3 separate regions of the Homo sapiens genome follow, and all the other regions are linked to region 3. The links come from fine-mapping of genetic effects on gene expression. A gene starts in region 3. Each other region holds a variant in brackets. All regions are shown on one strand. Distances are from middle to middle.

Region 1 (8,176 bases), 75 kb before region 3:
GGTTGCCAGAGCCACGCCTTTCTTACCCACCACTGTCAGCTTCACAAGGGGAGGCACATCTGTCTTGGTTAACTGGCGTACCCCATGTAGTAGGTGGTTAGCACACACTGTGGGATCCCTGGGTGACCTCACGAGTGGAAGGATGCCTAGTGGTGCTGACCCATGACCTTGGCCTCCTGGGCCTATGTGGATTTCCTGGCCTTCATGTCATTGGTGTCCTGGACTGGTCACTGTGTCAGCCTCTCCCTGGGAACCTGTAGGACACCATCCATCTGGGAGCCTTTCACCTCCCTGGTACCTTGCAGCCAGTTTGTCATCCAATAAACTTTAGATGACCATGATGACAATGGGAGTGACAAAGATGATGATGATGACATTGATGGTGCCATGGAGACCCAAGACACTGAGGCTGAGCTGAGGGTGTGGGTGGCAGGAGAAGGCATGGAAGAGACAGGAGACTTTCCCACCTGCTTCCTCCACTAACCCTGCTGGTTCCTTCCTGGGCAGGGTACAAGGCGGAGGTGATGGTCAGCCAGGTGTACTCAGGCAGTCTGCGTGTACTCAATCGCCACTTCTCCCAGGATCTTACCCGCCGGGAATCTAGTGCCTTCCGCAGTGAAACCGCCAAAGCCCAGAAGATGGTAGGAAAGGATCTGGGGGATGAGAGGGAGGGAATATGGGGGTGAAAAGAGAGGGGTGGGGTCTGATCACATGGAGCCAGTTGGTCAACCCATCTGGAGCATTCACAGGGACCACAGCCCTGCTCCAGGCACCATGGAAGCAGATGAGGTTGAGGGTCATGGGAAAGTTAGTGGATGTTTGGGTCAATAGCACTCGGATTAGATCCTGATCATGCCTCTTACCAGGGGTGGAGCATGACCTTGGGAAAGGTCCCACAGTGCAGCTGACACTATTGAGGGCCCGCTCCTGCCCCTCCGTTACAGGACGGTGGCCCGCTCCTCCCCCTCCGTTACAGGACGGTGGCCCGCTCCTCCCCCTCCGTTACAGGACGGTGGCCGCTCCTGCCCCTCCGTTACAGGACGGTGGCCGCTCCTGCCCCTCCGTTACAGGACGGTGGCCCGCTCCTCCCCCTCCGTTACAGGACGGTGGCCCTCTCCTCCCCCTCCGTTACAGGACGGTGGCCCTCTCCTCCCCCTCCGTAACAGGACGGTGGCCCTCTCCTCCCCCTCCGTTACAGGACGGTGGCCCGCTCTTCCCCCTCCGTTACAGGACGGTGGCCGCTCCTGCCCCTCCGTTACAGGACGGTGGCCCACTCCTGCCCCTCCGTTACAGGACAGTGGCCGCTCCTGCCCCTCCGTTACAGGACGGTGGCCCGCTCCTGCCCCTCTGTTACAAGACGGTGGCCCGCTCCTGCCCCTCCGTTACAGGACGGTGGCCACTCCTGCCCCTCTGTTACAGGATGGTGGCTCACTGCACGGAGGCTGGTCTACTGCCTGCCACTCTCAGGCTGCAGGACCACTGCCCAGCAAGGCAGGCCAGAAGTGCCGGGGAGTTATTCCCAGGAGCAACCCTGAACCATGAGCGCTGGAGTGGGTGGATCAATACCGCAGCTTCTTTGGCCCTGGCAGGGGGAATAGTTCACAGAATGTTCCAGGCTGTCTCCCAGAGATGCCCTATTCGGCTGAGCTCAGATGCTCTCAGCTCTACACTGCGCATTCATGGCCCTGTGTTGGTTGCCCACTTTCCAGTCTCTCCCTCCCAACTACTGTTTCCCAGAATCACCTCCAAATAAACCACTTGCCCCACCTTGTCAATGGAGGGTCTGCTTCTGAGGGACCCAGCCTGAGGCTGCCCGTTTCCTCCTCCATGAGGTAGGGGTGATAACAACAGGACCCGGCTGCAGATTTGTTGTGGGTTGCAGTGAAGTTGAGATAACACGAACACTATTCCCACGCTGCGCAAATGCTTAAGAGCCTGTAATCCTGCCAGCAGCGCTGTAGTTGGAGATGCGCAAAAACTACCCATCAGAGCTGCTGGCTTGTCCCAGGCCATGGGAGGAGGTGCAGAGGGGACCCAGGAGCCGAGTGGGGTTTCTCAGAGTTGAGGAGTGACTTTTGGCAAGGGGCAGAGGGGTCATCAGCAGTGCAGGTGGAGGTGAGAGTCGGGTGTAGTGGAAACAGAAAGAAGGGGATGGGGTGTGAGATTCATGCATGCCCCGGCCCGGCCACTCAGCACTGTGTGACCGTGATCAAGCCTGTCCACCTTGGAGAATCATGCATGGAGCGGGGCTGCCAGTAGGAGCAAAGGGCACCTCCAGGTAGGAAGTGGGCCTGTCTGCCCTGCAGAGGGTCCCAGGGGCTGTTGTCTTCCCTTCTCACAGCTCAAGGAGCTCATCACCAGCACCCGCCTGGGAACTTACTACAACTCCAGCTCCGTCTATTCCTTTGGGTGAGTTGTCCTTGCCCCTGACCAGCTCCTGCAAGAAGCTGAGATTCAAAGAATGGGAGGGGCCTCTGTAGGCTTCTGATGCAATGCCTTCATGTTTCAAATGGGGAAACTAAGGCATAGAGAGGGAACTTGGCTTCCTGCATGTCACCCTCCCTTCACTGGGCTCATCTGTAGAATGGAAACATGGGTGTGATAGGTTTGCACCAGACAATGACTGTGATGGCTGATCAAGGGCCTGACACCATCAGGCGAGGCGATGTTGGAGGGGCATGGGGTTAAAAGCATTGGCTCCAGGGCCCGACTGCCCCGTCCACATCTGGTTCTGCTACTTGCGGCATAGTTTATGAGACACAAGTTCACCTCTCATGCCTCAGTTTTCTCATTCGTAAAATAAGGATTATGAGAGCGCCTCCTTCAGAGGTCGCTAGGAGGCTTCTGCGTGAAGACGGACAGCAATGGCTGAGGTGCGGAAAGTGCTCGATGTGCATGAGCAGGGGTGGAGCTGGGGCCAGACCTCAGAATCCTTCCCTGGCCTCTCTCACTTCTGCCTGCCTTAGGGAGGGACCCCTCACCTGCTTCTTCTGGTTCATTCTCCAAATCCCCGAGCACCGCCGGCTGATGCTGAGCCCCGAGGTGGTGCAGGCACTGCTGGTGGAGGAGCTGCTGTCCACAGTCAACAGCTCGGCTGCCGTCCCCTACAGGGCCGAGTACGAAGTGGACCCCGAGGGCCTAGTGATCCTGGGTCAGTACTGCGAGTGGAAACGTGGGGTTGGCCTCATGAGGTTGGGGGAAACAAGCTGTGGTGTGGCCCGGGGAGGCTGCCTGCCAGGCCTGGGGTGCTGTCAGGGTGGGCCCCCCAGGAGAGCCCCCCAGGTGAGGTAGCAGTGCCATTGCATTCAAGGAGCCAGGAAAGAAGGGTGGGATGGGGGCATTTAGGGTAAATCTCAGACAAGGCTGGCTCCAAGGGTCTCCTCTAATTTTATTTTCATTGTATTTTCTTTTCTTTTTTTTTTTTTTTGTTCTTGTTTATTTGTTTGTTCATTTCCTTTTATCAGAAGCCAGTGTGAAAGACATAGCTGCATTGAATTCCACGCTGGGTACGCTATTTTTTTTTCCCCTCCCCATTTTCCTTTTGAGTTGGCATTTGTCTTGACTTTGTTGTGTATCAGGGGGACACATGGCTTCTGTTGTGTGTGCAGGGAGCCCTGGCCAAGAGTCACCCAGGGGATGCCATGGTGGACTCAGCGATGTGTCCCAAGCAAGTCTTGGAGCCTGTAGGGGGAGAGGAGGTGGCGACGTGCATGCGTGTATTTGTGTGTGTCTTGTAGACGGGTGTGCATGCGTTCCTGTGTGGGTGTGAGGATGAGTCAGGTTTAGTGGTCCACGAACGTGACTCTCCTCTATCATTCACTTCAACCTGCCCACAAGCTAGTTTCCACTGATGGTAGAAAATCATCTTGCCAATTCACGGTTTGTCAGTCACGTTGGTTTTAAAACTTGGTCTTTTGGAGGTAGCGGTGCCATTGCATTCAAGAACGCTCCTTCCCTCTTTTCCTTTCCTTCCCAGTCAGGCTCATCAGCCCTCCCTCCCTACCTGGTGCCGTATTGCTAGAGTCACCTTGCATTTCTCCAAGCGGACCCACAATCTTTCAGCTGACCAGCACAGTCACCACGCTGCACAAGGCAGGAGGTGCTGTCCAAGTTGTAGTTTGTGTGAGTTGTGCAGTGCACCAACTGGCTGCTGGACTCTATGGCCCCTAAATTCTCAGATTCCTCCCACACTATCTAGTGTTGTCACCCAGAGCCAAGGTGGGGGTGAGCGTCTCAACCCCTTCTCAGGGAGGGAGGCAGAGTTTAAATCCTTGTTATACCTTTCCTTACCTTCCCGTCTTCCCATCCTGCTGGTCAAATGCTTGCTTCTTTGTTGGATGGAGGTGATGAGGTCAAAGTACAGTTTTCAAAGAGGTGAAATCATGATTCTCATACAAAGATAGAGTGACCATGTGTCAAATATTTATTTGGCTGATTAATGGGGGAACGAGTAGAATGGTAAAGAATGCAAGAAACTGATCTATTTGTCTATCTATCTATCTATCTATCTATC[A/TATCA]TCTCTGTTGATATCTGTCTGCTTGTCTATCTAGTTATCTAACTAGCTAGCTGTCTATTATCTATCTGTCTGTCTCTCTGTCTCTGTCTGTCTAGCTAGCTAGCTGTCTGTTTATATCTATCTATCTATCTATCTATCTATCTATCTATCTATCTATCTATCATCAATCATTAATGGAAAAAGAGAATTGCTAGAATAAGATTACCAAGTTAGATACAAACCTGGTTAAGGTCCTACCAGGCAAGAAAACTCAAACCTTTGGAGTTGTCTTTTCTAGTGAATTAAAATCATTGACAGCTTATTACAGTCTTCTGAAAGTTAACATCTACCTCTACAGAGTCTGAGGTTGATAATCTACAACCAATAGTAAGTCAGAGATATTACTCCTGAGAGCCTCAGGGGGACTTAATCAGATGATGCTTGGAGACAGAGACTGGCTCATTGCAGCCTGGACACCGAATCTGGTCAATTGCTGCCTGATTTTGTATAGCCCATGAGCCAAGAATGACATATATATATATATAACAGAGTCTCACTCTGTCATCCAGGCTGGAGTGCAGTGCCGCGATCTTGGCTCATTGCAACCTCCACCTCCCAGGTTCAAGCAATTCTCCTGCTTCAGCCTCCTGAGTAGCTGGGACTACAGGTGCCTGCCACCATGCCTGGCTAATTTGTATATTTTTAGAAGAGATGAGGTTTTGCCGTGTTGGCCAGGCTGGTCTCGAGCTCCTGACCTCAGGTGATCCACCTGCCTCCACCTCCCAAAGTGCTGGGATTACAGGTGTGAGCCACCACGCCTGGCTCCATAGGCCATTTTTCAATTATTAAAAAATATAAAAGTCAGCCAGGCATGGTGGCTCATGCCTGTAACCCAGCACTTTGGGAGGCAGAGGCAGGCAGATCACCTGAGGTCAGGAGTTTGAGACCAGCCTGGCCAAGAAGGCGAAACCCCGTCTCTTCTAAAAATATAAAAATTAGCCGGGCATGGTGGTGCGCACCTGTAGTCCTAACCAGTCAGGAGGCTGAGGCAGGAGAATCACTTGAACCCGGAAGATGGAGCTTGCAGTGAGCTGAGATTGTGAGGTTGTGCCACTGTACTCCAGCCTGGGCGACAGAGTGAGACTCCATCTCAAAAAAAAAAAAAAAAAAAAAAAAAAAAGAAAGAAAGAAAGGAAAGGAAAAGGTCCTATGGAAAGTTATTTTTTCTCCTGCAATAGAAGTGCTATGTAATAGCCTCATGTTGCCTCGTGCCTCTGTGTCCCCATGTTCCTGGCAGTTGTTCTGTAATTATCTGTGCTCAGTGGGTGTTCGTTTCATGAATGAATGATTGAACAAATGAATGAAAGCATGAATGAGGAGACTGGTTCAGTGCATGTCCAGAGCACAGAGTCTCAGGGGGCAGAGATAACAACTCAAATCCTTGAAGTCGACTTTATGAGCACTTCCTTCATGCCAGGCCCCATTCCTGCGCTGAGGACACCAGGATGACCGTGTCCTCACCCCTGCCCTCGGAGGAGCTTTAAGCCCCATGAGGGAGACAGACACATAAACAGATTCTCATAACACCAGGTGCCAGTGTGAGAATAGAGGCCCCAGAGGCAGTGGAGAGAGGGAATTGTTCGTTCCAAAGCAGAAGAGGGGGCAAATCAAGAGCCTCACACAGAGTCCCAGATCTACAGGAGGGAGGGGTTGCTCCTGACTGGGGGATCCTGGAAGACTTCATGGAGGGGGCATCAGATTTGGGCATGGGCCGGGCGTGGTGGCACAAGCCTGTAATCCCAGCACTTTGGGAGGCCAAGTTGAGCGGATCACCTGAGGTCAGGAGTTCGAGGCCAGCCTGGCCAACATGGCAAAACCCCATCTCTACTGAAAATACAAAATTAGCTGGTCATGGTGGCCCATGCCTGTAATCCCAGCTACTTGGGAGGCTGAGGCAGGAGAATTGCTTGAACCCAGGAGGTGGAGGTTGCAGTGAGCCAAGATTGCACCATTGCACTCCAGCCTGGGCAGCAAGAGCAAATTCCATTAAAAAAAAAATTAGCTGGACATGGTGGTGTGCACCTGTAGTCCTAGCTACTCGGGGGTGGGGGTGGGGGGCTAAGGTGGGAGGATCACCCGAGCTCAGGAGGTCGAGGCTGCAATGAGCTGTTGTGATCGCATCACTGCGCTCCAGCCTGAGTGACAGGCTGTCTCAACAATAAAATAAAATAATTTTCAAAAGAAAAAGAAATTCAGGCATGGGGGTAGGCAGGAATTTGTCAGGGCGAGAAGAAGAAAGGGTTCCCTGAGCAGAGGGAATGGCAGGGGCAAAGGCTGGGGGAGGGGAACACCCAAGGCGTGTTCAGTTAATTCCTCCCAGCCCCGAGAGGTGCCAGGCTCCCTGAAGGTGTTTCTGATTAACAAGAGGTTAGCACACACCTCTCCACGGAATTCGTCTCAAAAAAAAAAAAAAGGGTAATTATTAAAGTGGCAAGAGCAAAGAATCTGCTTGGAGCAAGATTTAAAGAACACAAAACCCTAGGAAGAGCCAGCCATCTTTCCCCAGCTGCTGGTGGAGGCCCTGTCCCTTCCCTAGGCAGACATTGTTGTTCTCTCTCTGGGGAGGTCAGCTCCCCACTGCAGTCAGCATGGCCAGGGGTCAGGGAGAAGGGGCTGAGCCACAGGTGGCAGCATCAGAGCAAAGTGTATTCACCTCCATTCCCTTCCTGGTCCTCAGCACTGCCCAGAGGAGGTCATAGGACAGGGATTATTATTACATCCATTTGACAGAACTTGGAATGGCTAAGCCACTGGCCCAGACTCAGTTAACTACCCAGAGGTAGTGAACATCTACCTCTACAGAGTCTGAGGTTGATAATCTGCAACCAATAGTAAGTCAGAGTTATTACTCCTGAGAGCCTCAGGGGGACTTAATCAGACAATGATTGGGGACAGAGACTGGCTCACTGCAGCCTGGACACCGAATCTGGTCCACTGCTGCCTGATTTTGTATGGCCCATGAGCCAAGAATGACATCATCACACAGCTGATGAGTGTTGGTGCTAGGTGGGGAGGGTAGTGCCCCTCCCTCCTTCTCTCCAGTTCCCTCCCCATATACCCCCTCCCCTGGGGGCCCAGCAGATGGCACTAGCCTGGGGGGCCTGCCCTCAGGCTGACCAAGCTGACAGGGGGACTTTTGCTTGCCTGTGGCCTTCCAAAGAAGACGATTTAAAGCAGAGAAAACAGACTGAAAACTCAGGTTTTATAATTTCATGTCACCAGGCTGCCTCCCACATCCCAGGTTCATTCCTAAATCCCCACTGGCTCCTGGAAGAACACCAGGCTTCTGGCGAGGTTTAAATGAGATACTGGATGCTCCACGGGAGAGAACATGTTCACTGGCAGACCCTGGTGCCTAGATCGAACACACAGTCGGTGCACAGTCACTGTTTTGAATGAATGAATGAATGAATGAATGATGCAGGTGGTACTGCTTTGTAAGTTCTAGCAGTGCATCAGAGCTTACGGATTAGATGGAAGAGCAGAGACTCACTGGTGTGTGGGGTAGGGGGGTGGGGTATGATGGTGAAACAGTTGTGAAGTGAGGCAGCCGTGAGATGGGCTAGGTCTGAGCCTCAGGCGGGGCCAGCTGCAGGATGAAAAGTCACAGGCCTTTCTCCCCAG
Region 2 (8,176 bases), 470 kb after region 3:
AGGGAGTGTTGTACAGTTCTGAGTCGTGAAAGCCCCAGAGAACTGAGACTTAGGCCATACCCATCTCCTTTCTGGTGCTATATCAGCCTGGGCTGCAGCCACAGAGACTTACACTGGCTCTTAGGAACACTTCAAGACCACTCCGATGCCTTGCATTCATTCATTCATTCATTCATTCATTCTTTCATTCTTTCAGCTCCCACCACATGCCATTCACTGTGCTTAATGCTGGGGATAGCTGCAATCAAGACAAACATGGTCCCAGCCTTCTGTAACTCATGTGCTATAGGAAGAAAGGGAAAATTGGCCAGGTGCGGTGGCTCACGCCTGTAATTCCAGTACTTTGGGAGGCTGAGGCAGATGTATCATGAAGTCAGGAGTTTGAAACCAGCCTGGCCAACGTGGTGAAACCCCATCTCTACTAAAAATACAAAAAATTAGCCGGGCATGATGGCGCATGCCTGTAATCCCAGCTACTCGGGAGGCTGAGGCAGGAAAATTGCTTGAATGCAAGAGGTGGAGATTGCAGTGAGCCAAGACCATGCCACTGCACTCCAGCCTGGGCAACAGAGCGAGACTGTCTCAAAAAAAAAAAAAAAGAAAAGAAAAGAAAAAGAAAAAGAAAAAAGGGAAAATTAGCAAGTTAAGAATCAAATAATTATATAATTATAGATTATTGTGAATGCTATGAAGTAAGTGCATTGGGGCAATGATTTTTAGAATATCAGCTACCCAGGAGGCTGAGGCAGGAGGGATGCTTGAGACTAGGAGTTCGAGGCTGCAGTGCACTATGATTGCACTTGTGAACAGTCACTGCACTCCAGTCTGGGCAACGTAGTGAGAACTTGTCTCTCTAAAAAAAAAAAAAAAGAGAGAGAGAGAGAAAGAGAGAAATTTATCAGGGATTAACCTCTCTTTAGATGACTGGAAATTCAGTGGCTTAAAACAGCAATACCATTTTATTATCTCCCACAGTTCTGTGGGCTCAGTTGGGTGGTTCTTCTGTTCCGTATGATGTTAGCTGGGCCTGCAGTCATTCAGGGGCTCACCTGGGCTGCAGCACCCAGGCTGGCTCACGCACATGGCTGGAATCCATGCTGACTGTTGGCTGGGGGTTCAACTGGGCTGTTGAGCTGAACACCCCATTTCTCCCGCTGTGTCTCTCTATGTGATATGGGCTTCCCACAGCATACCAGCTGGGTTCCAGGTGGCAGGAAGGAGAAGCTGCCAGTCATCTGAAGGCCTCACCTCGGAAGCCTCAGTAAATTACCTCTGCCACATTCCATTGGCCAAAGCCAGGCCCAACGCCCGGCCCACTTCCAGGAGGAGGAGAAATAGAGTCTGTTTCTTGATGGGAACAGCAGCATACACAGGAGAGGCCAGGAAGCACTGGGAGTTGTCTTTGCAGACCAGCTACCACAACCCCTTTAAACAGAGCAGTCAGGGGAGGCCTCCCTAAGATGCTGACTTTCAGCAGAAATTTGAAGCGTAGGAATGATGAGCCAGGCAGAAGCAGGGGATGGGAGAGAGCAGAGGGCTCCAGGCAGAGGGAACGGCACATGCAAAGCCTCTTTTTCTTTTTTTTTTTTTTTTTTGAGACGTAGTTTTTGCTCTTGTTGCCCAGGCTGGAGAGCAATGGCATGATCTCAGCTCACCACCACCTCTGCCTCCCGGGTTCAAGTGATTCTCCTGCCTCAGCCTCCCCGAGTAGCTGGTATTACAGGCTTGTGCCACTACTCCCAGCTAATTTTGTATTTTTAGTAAAGACCGGGTTTCTCTATGTTGGTCAGGCTGGTCTCGAACTCCTGACCTCAGGTGGTTCGCCTGCCTCGGCCTCCCAAAGTGCTGGGATTACAGGTGTGAGCCACCACGCCCAGCCACAAAGCCTCTTTTCTGAAGCAGGGAAAGAACCTGGCTTGTGAGAACATCTCAAAGATGACTCCAGTAGTTATCCTGGGTGAGCAAGGGGACAAGTTACACAGGATAAGGTGGAAGAGGTGGGCAGGGGTCAGTCCTCTAATCCCGGGGTCCCCAATCCCTGGGCCTTGGACCAGGGCCACACAGCAGGAGGTGAGCAGCGGGTGATGGAGAATTACCACCTGAGCTCCACCTCCTGTCACATCAGCGGCAGCATTAGATACTCACAGGAGGATGAGTCCTACTGTGAACTGTGCATGAGAGAGATCTAGGTTGCCTGTTCCTTATGAGACTCTAACTAATGCCTGATGATGTGAGGAGAAACAGTTTCCCACCCAGTATGTGGAAAAATTGTCTTCCATGAAACTGATCCCTGGTGCCAAAAAGGTCGGGGACTGCTGCTCTAATCCAAAGGGAAGGCCTTTGAGTTATATTCTAGGTGCAAGGAGAGCCACTGATCCAGACACAACAGGGAAAATCACCACTGGGCTTTCCATGCAAACTTCACCCAGCCAGAACCAGGGCTCAGGGCTAAACACTGTGGCAATGGCCCGATATAAGAAAGGCATTTTTCTTTCCTGAAGCTCGTGATTTTATTTGAATTATTTACTTGCAGGCCGGGCACAGTGGCTCACATCTGTAATCCCAGCACTCGGGAGGCCAAGGCGGATGGATCACCTGAGGTCAGGAGTTCGAGACCAGCCTGGCCAACATGGTGAAACCCCATCTCTACTAAAAATACAAAAATTAGCCAGGCATGGGCACCTGTAATCCCAGCTACTTGGGAGGCTGAGGCGGGAGAATCACTTAAACTCAGGAGGCGCAGGTTGCAGTGAGATCACGACATTGCACTCCAGCCTGGGTGACAGCAGTATTCCATCTCAAAAGTAAATAAATAAATTAAATTAAATATAAAATGAATTATTTACTTGTAATTTGTAACCCATCCTTTTCCATTCAATTCAATTTCTATTTATTCAGCTTATTCTATGAGTAGAACAGCTTACAGTAAGACTTATGAATAAAAGTCTGTCAAAGGTAGAAGACCAAAACCATGGAAAGGGGAAGTAAGCAGTTTGACAAAAAGCACAAGCTTCCTGGCAAGCAAGGCAAAAAGGGAAACATCATACACTCTGTAGCTTTCACTGTCAAAGTCAACACTTCAGTTGCCGTGGAGAAGAAAATCTTTTTTCTTGATCTCATGGTCTCTGGGGAGCAGAGAAAACATACATGAAACAGTAATTAACAATTCAGGGCTACAACTAGAGAAGGCCAAAAGAGTGCCCTAGGCAGAAGCTGGGATGGAAGTCTTCCAATCTTTGCATCTCAGAGCACTCACCCCTTGAGAAAAGGCAGGAAAGGGCACGCAGGAGAGCAGGGACAATGGAGTTGGAAAGGTCTGCATTTGAAGCCCTGCTCCACCCTTCGCCAGCTGCATGACGAGCTCAAGAGATAGCTTCCGTCGGTCTTCATTTCCTCATCTGCAAAATGGGTTCAATAATCCCCGCATAGGGTTAGCTCAGAGGACACACTGGAATGAAAGCTCCTGGCATAGTAGCTGGTACGTAATAGGAGTAGTCACAACCAAAGCTGGAATCTATTAAGCTCTCCCTTTGTGCCACGCATTAATTTAAGCACTGCATGTGTTAATGCTAAAG[G/A]CAACATTGTGAGATAGGTCTTATTATCCTCATTTTACAAATGAGGACATGGAGGCTCAGAGATGTTAAGATATGTGCCCAGGTTCACACAGCAGGAATATGGTGGAGCTGAGACAATAAGCCAGGTAGTCCATTGGCTGCAGAGCTCACCTCCTCACCGCCACACTAACCCACTTCTCCAATAGTGGTTTCCTTGCCCCCTTCTCTTTCCCTTCATCCCCCAATACACTGCTGAGTACTCACAGCTAACTGGAAGCAGCTCCCTCCACAAAGCCAAAATCCCCGTCCCACTAGCTCATCTCACTCTCACCTCCTCCCCACCCTTTGCCTCTCTCCTTGTCTGAGCTCTGTCCTCTGCAATTCATGAAAGCCAGAACTGAACTCTCCTCACAGGACAGCCCTTCAGAGTCCGTTGCTTCTGCTGAAGGGCATGGCAAAGGATTAACAGAGGTGAGATGCAAAGCTGGCCATGGAGAATGGGGAGGATTCTTCCCATGGGCTCCTTGAGGGCAGAGGCATGCCTCACTTATCACATGTGTGTGGTACATGGCAAAGCCCAGTAACCTTATGAGTTGAATAAAGGTGAATTGAATTGAATTGAACTGAAGCGGATTGCAAAGTTGAATGGATGGAAGGTGGGTGGGTGGATGGATGAATGGATGGATGGATGATTGAATGGATGAATGGGGGGATGGATGGATGACGGATGAATGGATGGATGATTGAATGGATAGGTGGGTGGATGGATGGATGATTGGATGGATGGACAGGTGGATGGATGAATGGACAGGAGTGACCACCGCTGGTAGGGAATTCTGGTAACTGAAGGTACAGAGGTAGGAATGCCCAAGGTGTGTTGGAAAACACTGAATAAATTAGTGTGATTGGAGACGAGGACTCATGCTAGGGAGATGCAGAAAAAGAATAAATATCCACACTCTCCCTCCTACAAGGAGAGGTGGAGGCACTGGCAGGTGCTGTACAAGTTGTGTGCTCCATGGCTGCTGGGAAGGGAGGCGTTAACAGCAGGATGGTTCCTGGCCAGCTGCAACCGGGGTGACACTGACAGATTACAGCGTGTCCTCCGCACTAATAACACTGCGGCGTCCTCCTGCCATTCCCCAGCCAGCTCCAACTTCAGTGGATCAATACCAAAAGGCGCACACTGAAAATCCCCAGCCAACTCCCTCCAAGGCTTGGATGCTTCAAAGCACAGAACTGCAGAGTAAAAGGATCTCAGCGATTTGCTTATTTCCTGGGCTGGGCGCTCCCTGGGGCCAGGGATGGTGTCCTATTCACCTTGGCTTCCCTGCCCCATTACAGGACCAGGCAAGGACAGCCCTCTCCCAAAGTTTGCTGAGTGAAGGAATCTACCTCCTGGCCATTGCGAGTCCTCACAAACACATCTGTGTGGCTCACAATCCCTCAGCCTCTACTTGCATACCTCTAATGACAGGAGGCTCTCAACCTCCCCCAAGCAGCCAGAGCCTGCCTTTATTGGAAAGCTCTGATGATTAAAATCATCTTCTCTATTCTTTTCTTTTCTTTTTTTTTATTTTTGAGATGGAGTCTTGCTCTGTTGCCCAGGCTGGAGTGCAGTGACACGATCTCAGCTCACTGCAACCTCCGCCTCCCAGGTTCAAGCGATTCTTCTGCCTCAGCCTCCTGAGCAGCTGGGACTACAGTTGAGTGCCACCACGCCCAGGTAATTTTTGTATTTTTAGTAGAGACGGGGTTTCACCATATTGGCAAGGCTGGTCTCGAACTCCTGACCTCGTGATCCGCCTGTCTCGGCTTCCCAAAGTGCTGGGATTACAGGTGTGAGCCCCTGCGCCTGGCCCGTCTTCCCTATTCTGAATTAACCCCTCCTCTTTTATTTGTCCGTGGTCTTCTATTTCCCAATTTCTTCCTTTTCCCTGGACACCTCTTTCCTCCTCTCCCAAACCATCCAATATCCCAGTCCTCATTTCCTGGGGTACTGAAGTCAAATAATTAAGGGGAGGAAGAAGGGAATTAGCATTTATTGAGTACCTTCCCTAGTTGAGATAAGTCAGAAATGTCCACGTGCCAGATGCAGTGGCTCATGCCTGTAATCCTAGCACTTTGAGAGGCTGAGTCGGGAGGATCACTTGAACCCAGGAGTTCAAGGTTGCAATGAGCTATGATCATGTCATTGCACTTCAGCCTGGGCAAGAGAGTAAGACCCTGTCTTAAAAAAAAAAAAAAAAAAAAAAAAAAGCCTCATGTTATTCCTATCTCACAGATGGGGACTCTGAGGCTCAGAGAGGTTAAGAAACCCAGAATCACACAGCCACACAGGGGCAGAGCTGGGGCTGTGCCTTTCCAGACCGCAGGCACACAGGATGGATGTTTCCCACATCTTCTTGGCCTCAGGTGAGTCTAGAAAGGACATAACTGGTCCCCTAATGCCCCGAGGGACTTGCTCGAGGTCACAAGAGCAAAGGGGTTGCCCAGATCGAGGCTCTTCCCCCACAGCTTGTTGCTTCCCTCCCTCTCCCCCACCCAAATAGCATTTCTCAGGGAAGAAAACCTGGGCTCCTTAGAAAAACAGCTGATTCTAGGAGTGGGGCAGGGAAAGAACGAGAGGAGGCGGGGACATTTTGTTCTTCCAGGAAGCCAGGAAGTGAACAGACTATGGGGACTGGGGCACAGACTTAGGATCCTCAATGCATCAAAAAGAATGGGAGGACACCAACTCATTATATATCAACTGGCTTCTAAAAGGGGAAGTGGGAACCGAGCAAAATAACATGTATTACATTGTATTACATATAACATGTAAAGTACACATATGCATGCATGTATAGGTGCCCATCCTGCCTGGGAGAGCTCTGCACACTGTGGACACTTGCTGAGATGCCGCCCTGAAAACCTCTGGGCAGGCATTCCAAGCCCCTAGCCCATCCCAGCCCGGCATCTCCCAAGCCTTTCCCTGCCTCTCCCTCTACAGTGAAGATCAACAGGGACGAGGGGCTTCCGTGTGGCGCTGACCCGCACAGATGCCTGGAGAGGAATTGGCTTGCCCAGAATCCCCACTGGGCACTGGGACCAGATCTCCCGGGCTCCTGAGCCCATGGCCTCCTTCCCAGCCCAGTCCACCCAGCTTCCTGGTTCGTGTGCATGGCCTGCTGAGCTGGAACTGCTCGAGAGTCAGCACGAGCCTTAGAGAGGCTGTCCCAAGCCAAGCCCGCAGGCTGCCTCTCTTCCTCTTACTGTGCCTTCTGCCCTGCCAAACGCCTGCCGGCTATGACAGCCCCGCAGCAGCCGCTCTCCCCTGCCTCGTCCCTGCTCTGTCTCTCACCAGGCCTCTGCAGTCCCCATTTCCTGTCCCCATCTGATCACCTCACCCCCAGTCCAGGCCCACACAGTCACACTTGTGCACACAGACCTCTTGATGTCCACGTCCCTACCCCCTGCCATCCTCATCCCACCCTCCAAGCCCGCCCACCCTTTGTCCAAACCAGCATTTAATGGTGACACTTGTCAGGCTCTCAGAAAAAGTCAAGATCTAAACCCACACTGGCTCTTCCCAAAGCCCATGTTTGTAGTTAACAGGCACTTGTCTTGTCTTGCTTTTTGTGCTTATGTCTATATAAAACACCTCTCACAAAACAAACAGGCAAAGTCTCTAGAAAATAAAAAACACAAGAAAGTGTAAGAGTAGTCACCTCTGGGGAGGGAGGGAGGCCAAGGTGGGCAGATCACGAGGTCAGGAGTTCAAGACCAGCCTGACCAACATGGTGAAACCCTGTCTCTGCTAAAAAATACAAAAAAATTAGCCAGACGTGGTGGCATGTGCCTGTAGTCCCAGCTACTCAGGAGGCTGAGACAGGAGAATCGCTTGAACCCAGGAGGCAGAGGTTGCAGTGAGCCAAGATCATCCCACTACACTCCAGCCTGGGCAACAGAGCGAGAATCCATCCCAAAAAAAAAAAAAAAGAAGAGCAACCTCACTTGGGACTTTTTGAGCCTTTTGAATTTTGTACCCCATCCGTGAAAAACCCATACACTTCAGCTTTAGTAAAGGTGACCATTAAAAAACAAAAAAGACAAGTCCTGACTCCACTAGTACCAGTTTTATGACCTTGGGAAAAACTTATGTCAGTATCCCAAGTCTCAGTTTACTCGTGTATAAAATGGGGATGATCACAGTACCTGCCTTATAAGACAGACAATAAACCAAGGCCCAAGAAGTGCTTAGCACCACGAAATAGTCAAGGCTCAGTAAACATGAGTGATGGGCCTCTCTTTGCCCACCTTCTCCATGGAACTCTGAGCTCCTAGCAGAGCTCCCAGCATGGTGATTCCCTGACAAATACAAGATGCAATTCACAGTCCTCAGAATAGCTTTCAAGGCCCTCCCTGCTGGTACCACTGTCTTTCCTACTGCATCTGTTACCCATCCTCAAACACATGACTGACGCCCTTTGACAGCTCCTGCCCGTACATACCCCACTGCCCCTGATGCTTTCCTTCCCCCAGTCCTCATGCACCTTTCTTTGTCTGGTTATCTGCAAATTCATTTCATCCTTCAAATCCTGCAAAACATCTCCCCCTCTTGTAGCCTTCACACTGTGCCA
Region 3 (8,162 bases):
CCAGGAGGCGTCCAGCAGCTGCAGAGGCTGCCCAGCGCGCGGGGCCCGCAGCGCCTCCGCCACCCATTGCGCCGACACCAGCGCGCGGCAGAGCTGCGGCGAAGCCATGGCGGCGACACTCGGGCTGCGGGCCTGGGCGACAGGGAGGATGTCAGAAGGGAAGCAGGGAGAGGCCGCTGTTGGGGCTAGGGCTGGGGCTGGAGCATGGGCGAGGGCCGGCGGGGGAGGTGCGGCCCGTGCAGGGCAGAGTCCAGGGAACGCAGAAACCAGTGGTGGTGAACCCGGGCACAAAGGTGGGTAGCCAGGGGCCTCCCTCTGCCAGGCCTCATATAAACACAAGCTCCGAGTGACCCAATGACCATGACCTCCCGGAGAGCCCCAGGCCACGCCCCTCACCTCCACTTGCTGGGCAGGAGGGTGGGTGGAGGTATCCTAGGGCAAGGCCCTGCTGGCTTCAAGGCACAAACAGGGGCAAAGTCTCCACCCCTCCCTAAGATGCAGCTCGGCTTTATTTGCAACCAAGTCCCAGACGGAAGTCATTCATTCACTCATCAAGCATTTATATTGGCGACCTAATAGGAACAGTAGCTGGAATTTACTGAGTCCTTGCTGGGTACCACTGAATCCTAACAATATCCTAGAACAATGCCTGACACAGTAGACTCTCCAGTATGTGTTGAATGAGTGATCTTAAGAGGCCTGGTATATTATTGTCACCGTTTCAAGGAGGACACTCAGGCTCACAGAAGTGCACTAACCTGGCCTGGTGCGGTGGCTCACGCTTGTAATCCCAGCACTTTGGGAGGCCCAGGCAGGTGGATCACCTGAGGTCAGAAGTTTGAAACCAGTCTGGCCAACATGGTGAAACCCCGTCTCTACCAAAAATACAAAAAATTAGCCGGGCTTAGTGGAGGGCACCTGTAATCCCAGCTACTCGGGAGGCTGAGGCAGGAGAACTGCTTGAACCCAGGAGGCGGAGGTTGCAGTGAGCCGAGATCGTGCCATTGCAATCCAGCCTGGGGAACAAGAGCAAAACTCTGTCTCAAAAACAAAAAACAAACAAGAAAAAGTGCACTAGCCTGACCCGGCGGTGCCAGGCTTCTCACTAGGCAGTCAGTCTGGCACCAGAATCCGGACTTCTCAGACACACACTCTGTGCAGGCTCCAGGAGTCTGGCGAGGCCAGGTTTTGCCTGTCCAGCCTGGGCTCTCTCTGGCCCTTCTAGCAGCAGCAACAGTGACTTCGCACCTCCCTCCCTCTCCTCTCTATCTTTCCTGCATACCAGAGACAGTGCACCAGCTCGCCAGCCCACTATGCCAGGCCAGCCCACAGCCTTCCTGGGTGTAAACTTCCCAAACACTTTAAGCCCTTTGTGCTGGGAAGCCACCGTTGTGCAGGTGAGAGGAAAGGGCCCCTTCTGCCAGGCAGAGGCTGAGCCCCCACCAGGGCACATGGCTGGGTGTGTGGAGTATGGGCTGCAGATCAGCCCTCACTTATCCCCTGTGTGAGGCCCAACCTTGACACCCACTGCATGCAGTCCTGCCAGCGAAATGAAGGGGGCAGGTAGAGAACAACATCTGTGGACCGAGTGCCTCTGTGGGCCAGGTCACATGCTAGGCACCGCAGCCTTGGGCGGGTATTAGGACGCCTGCTTTATGAATGAGGCCACTGGCAATTAGAAGAATAAGTGCCTTGCCCGTGGTCACAGGAGGCAGCCTCAGGATTTGCAGCCAGAATTTGACCCCTCAGGCTGGACTTCCCCTGCCCCAGGTGCCATGATGACCAGGGCCTAATGAGTTCTAGGGTGACACCCTGTGCCCACCCCCACAGTCTGGCCGCAGCTGGCTTTTAGGAACCTACTTCACCCATGCGGTCAGGCCTTGTGCCGGACACCGAGGCACTCTTGCCTTTGCCAAGCCCTGGGGGGAAACGTCAGGCTGCAGGCAAGAGAGAGTGAAATTGAGGATAGTTTAGAATTCAGTGTTGAGCACAGAGGGCCCCTATGTTTGCCTGGGGTGGCAGCAGAAGAGGTGGGAAGGCTTCCTGGAGTAGGAGGAAGTCCAGACTAATCTGACTTTTCCAGGGGCCCAGGAAGCCTCAGCACGGTCTTTAGGGTAGGGAGGCTGCCAAGGGGTGTTTGGCTAAGGGGTGATCCCCATTATCTGCGTTACAGCACAGCTAGGGGGCGCTGTGCTGGCAGATGCTGCAGGTTCCTTCCTGAGGAACCCTATTGTGGGAACCACAGCAGCCCCTGTGCACCCCCAAACACTGTCCCCTATTCTTGAGGATCCTTGTTTCCCTCACCCAATCATCCATTTACAGTAGAAAGAGCCCTGGTTTAGGAGCCAGAGAGCCCCCCAAATCAATGTAAACCCCACTCCACTGCTTAACTGGTTGTGTGATGTGGGTGTGTAGGGTCTCTGGGTGGTTTCTGTTCCTTATAATGGAGCTTCTCACCTCCACCTCTTAGAGCCAAGATTAAACAATAAATGTAGAGGGGCAACCACCATGCATTACATCTGGCTGGTTTTAATAATCATTAAAAACGGTTTAGGTCGGGCGTGGTGGCTCACACCTGCAATCCCAGCACTTCGGGAGGCCAAGGCGGGCGGATAACGAGGTCAAGAGTTCAAGACCAGCCTGACTAACATGGTGAAACCTCATCTCTACTAAAAATACAAAAATTAGCTGGGCATGGTGGCATGAGCCTGTAGTCCCAGCTACCCGGGAGGCTGAGGCAGGAGAATCGCTTGAACCTGGGAGGCAGAGGTTACAGTGAGCCGAGATCGCGCCACTGCACTCCAGCCTGGGCAACAGAGTGAGACTCCATCTCAAAATAATAATAATAATAATAATATTGCATTATTTCTTCCATTACTCTCATTGGTGGCCCTGGAACTGCCAGCAGCAAATCTAAAATCTTAGAATTTCAGGGCTTGGTGGGACTTCAGAGATCTGAGGTCACCCTGCCCCAGTCTCCCTGCTTGATTGGCACTTCTCACAAAGGTCTGTGGGCCATAAAGGAGGGTGTGAAGGCAGGCTGTGGGTGTCAGGGAGGGGTAGAAACCAGGTGCCTGTGTGATTCAGAAGCCGGGATCACTGTAGGTGAGGGTGCCCTGGGAGTGGAGGACCCCAGGACGTAACCGCCCCAGGCTCATGTCAGAAGGATACACAGCTGCACTGAAGCAAGCGTGAGCCGCAGGCTGGATCCAGGGTACCCCTTGAGGAGCAGAGCTTGGGAGCTCCTCTTGGACCTCCCCAGCCTGGTCCCTCCTGCCCACCCCCTCCCCCAACCACCAGACACTAGGCTTTGAGGATTGCTGTGAGCATTTTAGAACAAAACCTTTTTTTAAAAAGAGGGATGAGGCCAGGGATGGTGGCTCATGCCTGTAATCTCAGCACTTTGGGAGGCTGAGATGGGCAGATCACTTGAGCCCAGGAGTTCAAGACCAGCCTGGACAACATGGTGAAACCCCATCTCTACCAAAAATTTAAAAATTAGCCGGGAATGGTGGCACATGCCTGTGGTCCCACCTACTTGGGAGGCTAAGGTGGGAGGATCGCTTGAGCCTGGGAGGCGGAGGTTGCAGTGAGCTGAGATGGCGCCACTGCACTCCAGTCTGGGCCACAGAACCACAGCCTGTCTCAAAAAACAAAACAAAACAAAAGGTCAGGGTTGGGAAACAGGGAAAGCTTCCAGGCTGGCCTCTGCAAAAGCTAGGGAGGGGCAATGGTGTCCCCCAGTTTGCAAGAGCCCATGGCGAGCTTTTCAGGAATTTTGCCAACTGGTTGTTAAATACAGCTATTATTAAAAATTGAATTACATCAACTTATGATTAAACGGGCTAAGTTCAAAACAGGCAATTTTTTAAAAAGCATGAACCTTCAGGGAAGAGCCAGGTAAACAAAGGCAGCTGGTACCACGTGGGCTTCAGACCAGGGATCAGGCCCGGCCTCAACTCTGGGTGTGTCCTCCAGCAACTCGCTCTGCCGCTCTCTCCTGTCTTAGTAAGTTTCTGGCCTACTCCTCAGGGTTATTGTGGGAATTAAGTCACACCACGGGAGTACCCAGCAAAGTGCCACACCAAGCAGGGCTGGACAATGTTAGTTCCTTTCACTCACTAACAAGTTATTGGCTAGTGTCTCTTCCTGGGGCCTCTGGGTCAGCGGGGTCTCGTCTCCCTGTCCTCCTCTCTCTCCCCCGCCCTCTCTGGTGCCACCAGGTCACCCACTTCCACCCAAGGCTCCCCACCCGCCACTCGCCACGACCCCACCCGGCAGGCCGCCCCAAGCGGACAGTCACCCTTAGTGCCAACGTAGCGGCGCGCCTTCTCTCCTAGACTAAGCCCCCTCTTCCGCCCAGGTCCCGCGCGGGAGCCCCGCGCCGAGCACCCCCAAAGAGCCACTCCCTCCCCCTCCAGAAAGGCAAGCCGCCACGCCGCGGCAGTTACCCGGGTCTCGGACTCCCGGCTTCCTGGCTCCGCCATGGCCCCCGCGGCGCGGCGCCCCCTCCCCGCGCCCGCAGCTGTCCCCTCCTCCCGCCACCAACCTGCAGCGGACCAAAGGGAGGAGACTCCGGCACAGCCCACCGCCGCGGCCACTCGGAGCCGCTGCTGCCCGCGCCTTCCACTGGCCGGGCCGTGGGGGTACGCCCGCTCCGCCCAGCCCAGGCCCGCGCGGCCCCCGCGCCACCCGGCGTCCCCCTCAGACCCCCGCGGGTCCCGGAGGCCCCGCGCGCGAGGTTGGCAGGTGCCGGGCGCGAAGCGGCCGCGCGGGGGAGGCGCGGGATGGCGGCGGGCGGCGCAGGGTCCCCCTCTGGCGGTGGCGCGATGGTGCGCGCCGCCTGGGGAGCTGCGGCCGGGGGTTTGAACCGGCCAACTTCTCCAGCCGGCCGGGGCGAGCGCCAGCGCGGCGTCCGGGGCGAGTGAGTGCGGGGCGGGGGCAGCGGCCGGGCGCCTGGGCCGCCGGTCGGGCCACCTGCTGCCCGGGGAAGGATAGCGTTGCGAGAGTGGGACGGGGTGCCCCGGGAACCCCTGATCCACCTAGGGCAGAGGGCAGCGAGCTACGGGCCGGACTCGGGCACTCTGGAGGCGGGCGAGCTCGGGCTGCCTGGGGAGGCCGCAGGCGATGGCGTGTGCGCGGCTCGCGGAGCTTCCTAGCCGTGCGCCCACCCCCTCTGCCTTGGAAGGAAAGGGGATTCTAAGCCCAAGATGCCATCGCCCCCCATCCCGGGCATGCTTTCATTGCTCTTTCCTGGCGGGATCGAGTACTGTAACTTCTAGGAGCCAGATCCCCGCCCCAGGAAGCGCCCCTACTTGGAGTCCTCGGAAACTCTTGCCCCACCCGCTTCTGCGCTGGGCCCCCGGGCCGGCTGGGAGGGGCGGGGCCGGCTTTCCAGAGGGAATCTGCAAACTTATCCCGCTGCACGCCCCAGCCTCGCTGGCTTGCTGTAAACAAGGAACCCGGGGGAGTGCGGAGGGAGAAAGAGCTTCTCCCAGGCCTCACCCTACTGCACACACCGACTTCCTTCCTCACGCCTGTCTCTCTTTCCTGGTTCCCACCCGTGCCAGGTGACACGCAGAGCTGAAGCCATGGTTCATCAGGTGCTCTACCGGGCGCTGGTCTCCACCAAGTGGCTGGCGGAGTCCATCAGGACTGGCAAGCTGGGGCCCGGCCTGCGGGTGCTGGACGCGTCCTGGTACTCACCAGGCACCCGAGAGGCCCGCAAGGAGTACCTCGAGCGCCACGTACCCGGCGCCTCTTTCTTTGACATAGAAGAGTGCCGGGACACGGCGTCGCCCTACGAGATGATGCTGCCCAGCGAGGCTGGCTTCGCCGAGTATGTGGGCCGCCTGGGCATCAGCAACCACACGCACGTGGTGGTGTATGATGGTGAACACCTGGGCAGCTTCTATGCTCCCCGGGTCTGGTGGATGTTCCGTGTGTTTGGCCACCGCACCGTATCAGTGCTCAATGGTGGCTTCCGGAACTGGCTGAAGGAGGGCCACCCGGTGACATCCGAGCCCTCACGCCCAGAACCGGCCGTCTTCAAAGCCACACTGGACCGCTCCCTGCTCAAGACCTACGAGCAGGTGCTGGAGAACCTTGAATCTAAGAGGTTCCAGCTGGTGGATTCAAGGTCTCAAGGGCGGTTCCTGGGCACCGAGCCGGAGCCGGATGCAGTAGGTAGGTGTCCCAGTGCTGGGTGGTCCCTGGGGAGTATTGCCCCATGGAAGGATAGGGAGTAAGGATGACTGGGACCCTCTCCAGGGTCCGTCCCATGCCTTCAATCCTCCCATGTAGGCCTCAGTCTTTCCATCGATAAAACCAGAAAGTGGAGACAAACCTAAAGGCTTTTTCAGCTTGGATGCACAAGGACCCAAGAATGTGTCCTCATAGCCATGTGCTAAGAAGCCACCTAGCATCTGTGTGAGCAGAAGTCACTGGTGACATGTCCACCACCTCCACTCCCAGGCACCAGCTGCCCCACATGTACTAGGATATACCTAAGGGTGTCATGCCCCTGAGCCAGCGTTTGCATTGCTGTACAGAAACCTCCCACGGACACATCCAGCTTCTCCAGGCCTCTCTCGTCCCGCAGAAACCCTTATAGACATCAACAGTGTCCCTCCCCGCAGGATCCCCCTCTCCCCAAATCTAGCTCTCCTGGGGCCCCTGCCTGCTGTTTGCAAAGGTTCCATAACCTTTCCAGGCAGCTGCAGCCCGTCGGCAGAGTTGTAACAGCAGCTGCCATTTCATGCCAGACACTTGGCACCGCATTATCTCAGCGAACAAAGCTCAATGCCCCTGTTTTGGCAGCGGGGGGTGGGGGGACTGAGATGCCAGGACATAAAGTGGTGGAAGGCAGGATTCGAATCCAATGCTGCCTTGTTTCAAACCAGGGCTATAAACCAGGACGCACCCAATGCTGCCCTACCCCTACTTCCCAGGGCCAGGAGGGAGTCCCCTCTGCTAGTTGCCCCAGGAAGGCGACTCAGAAGTTCCCCTCCTGTGGAAGGGAAGGCCAGGTGGATTGGATACTGCTTGAGGGTTGGGGAGAGCCTCAGGAGAGGAAATGCTGAGTTCTAGAACCTCCTAGCCAGACAGAACCTCGGAGGTCTTCCCTTTTCTAGAGGCAGGACTGCCGTCTCGCTGCCATCACTCCTGCTGAGTGCCCTCCAGTCCCTGCCTGGCCATTTCCAGGAGCAGGGCCCTCTCTTGTCTCTGGGCACCTCCTTGGTGGCTCTTTCCTCAGTCAGAGCTCCTTCTCTACAGAATCTAACTCGTGTGCAACATTTTGCCTGACTTGTTGAAAAACATCTCTTCCTGTCTGTACCTCCTACAGAGAGAATGCTGGGAAAACTGTTCTGCACACTCTTAGAGCTGGAGGGCCTGAACGGTGACCTCACCTGACAGAGGGGAGACTGAGGTGCACAGAGGCAGGGGCCAAGGCCGCATAGCTAGTTAGTGACAGAGCCAGGACAGCAGGGTCTCTGCCCTTTCCAGCGCAGCTTTTTCCAGGCCCCATATTTTTCTTGCCTGCTTGCTCTCTGAAGGTCTGGAGTTGAAGATTCAAGTTCATTTGGCACCTCCCAGAGAATCCTGGCTGGGAACGCCTGCAGCCCTCTCCTGGCCTTGGTTCAAGACGCCTCTTCTCCTTGGGATTTAAGCTGTCATGGGGGAGGATCAGTGGAATTGGTTCTCTTGCTGCTTCCCAGCCTGCCCTGAAGCAACCTAAGAAATAAGTGGAAGGGACAGCTTGGAGGTGCCAGGCCCAATGTCCTCACCCATTTTACAGATGAGGAAACTGAGGCTCAGAGGAGGAGAATGGCCTGCAGTGGGTAATGCCTCCTGAAGGCCCGGGATGCTGAAGTTCCTCCTCTGTAATTGTGTTCACACCTCCTTCAGTTTCCCTCAGGAGCATCAGGGAACATGGATTCTCATTTCAGCTCAGCCACTCCTCCTTGGAGTGACCTCAGTCCAGTTGCTTGGCCTCTCTGGGTTTCCTTATCATAAAATGAGAAGAGTCACGCCAGCCCTACCCACATGAGTATGCATTTGTTTAAATGTAGCAGTGGCGGCCGGGCGTGGTGGCTCACGCCTGTAATCCCAGCACCTTGGGAGACCAAGGTGGGCGGATCATGAGCTCGGGAGTTCGAGAC

Evidence for each region. PIP is the estimated chance that this variant, and not a neighbour inherited with it, causes the effect.
Region 1: its variant is fine-mapped to the expression of MPST in whole blood (INTERVAL, PIP above 0.99).
Region 2: its variant is fine-mapped to the expression of MPST in spinal cord (GTEx, PIP above 0.99).

The regions. Positions count from the first base shown.
Region 1 is chr22:37,090,881-37,099,056 of GRCh38, reverse strand. TMPRSS6 (transmembrane serine protease 6) reads left to right here. Exons shown (of 18, transcript NM_001374504.1): 3 at 508-641; 4 at 2,342-2,409; 5 at 2,967-3,151; 6 at 3,465-3,506. Among named protein-coding and RNA genes, the nearest start is that of TMPRSS6, 15 kb to the left of the region's middle. RefSeq lists an enhancer at 581-1,086. The variant A/TATCA (reference allele first, on the strand shown) is at 4,514.
Region 2 is chr22:36,547,388-36,555,563 of GRCh38, reverse strand. No RefSeq gene overlaps it. Among named protein-coding and RNA genes, the nearest start is that of EIF3D, 22 kb to the right of the region's middle. The variant G/A (reference allele first, on the strand shown) is at 3,576.
Region 3 is chr22:37,016,162-37,024,323 of GRCh38, reverse strand. MPST (mercaptopyruvate sulfurtransferase) reads right to left here and starts at 4,582. Exons shown (of 3, transcript NM_021126.8): 1 at 4,452-4,582; 2 at 1-132. The coding sequence starts at 4,487. It overlaps TST (thiosulfate sulfurtransferase), which reads left to right and starts at 4,877. Exons shown (of 3, transcript NM_003312.6): 1 at 4,877-4,924; 2 at 5,571-6,186. The coding sequence starts at 5,592. RefSeq lists silencers at 4,266-4,585, 4,596-4,715, 4,746-5,135, 5,296-5,355 and enhancers at 4,829-5,330, 5,359-6,334.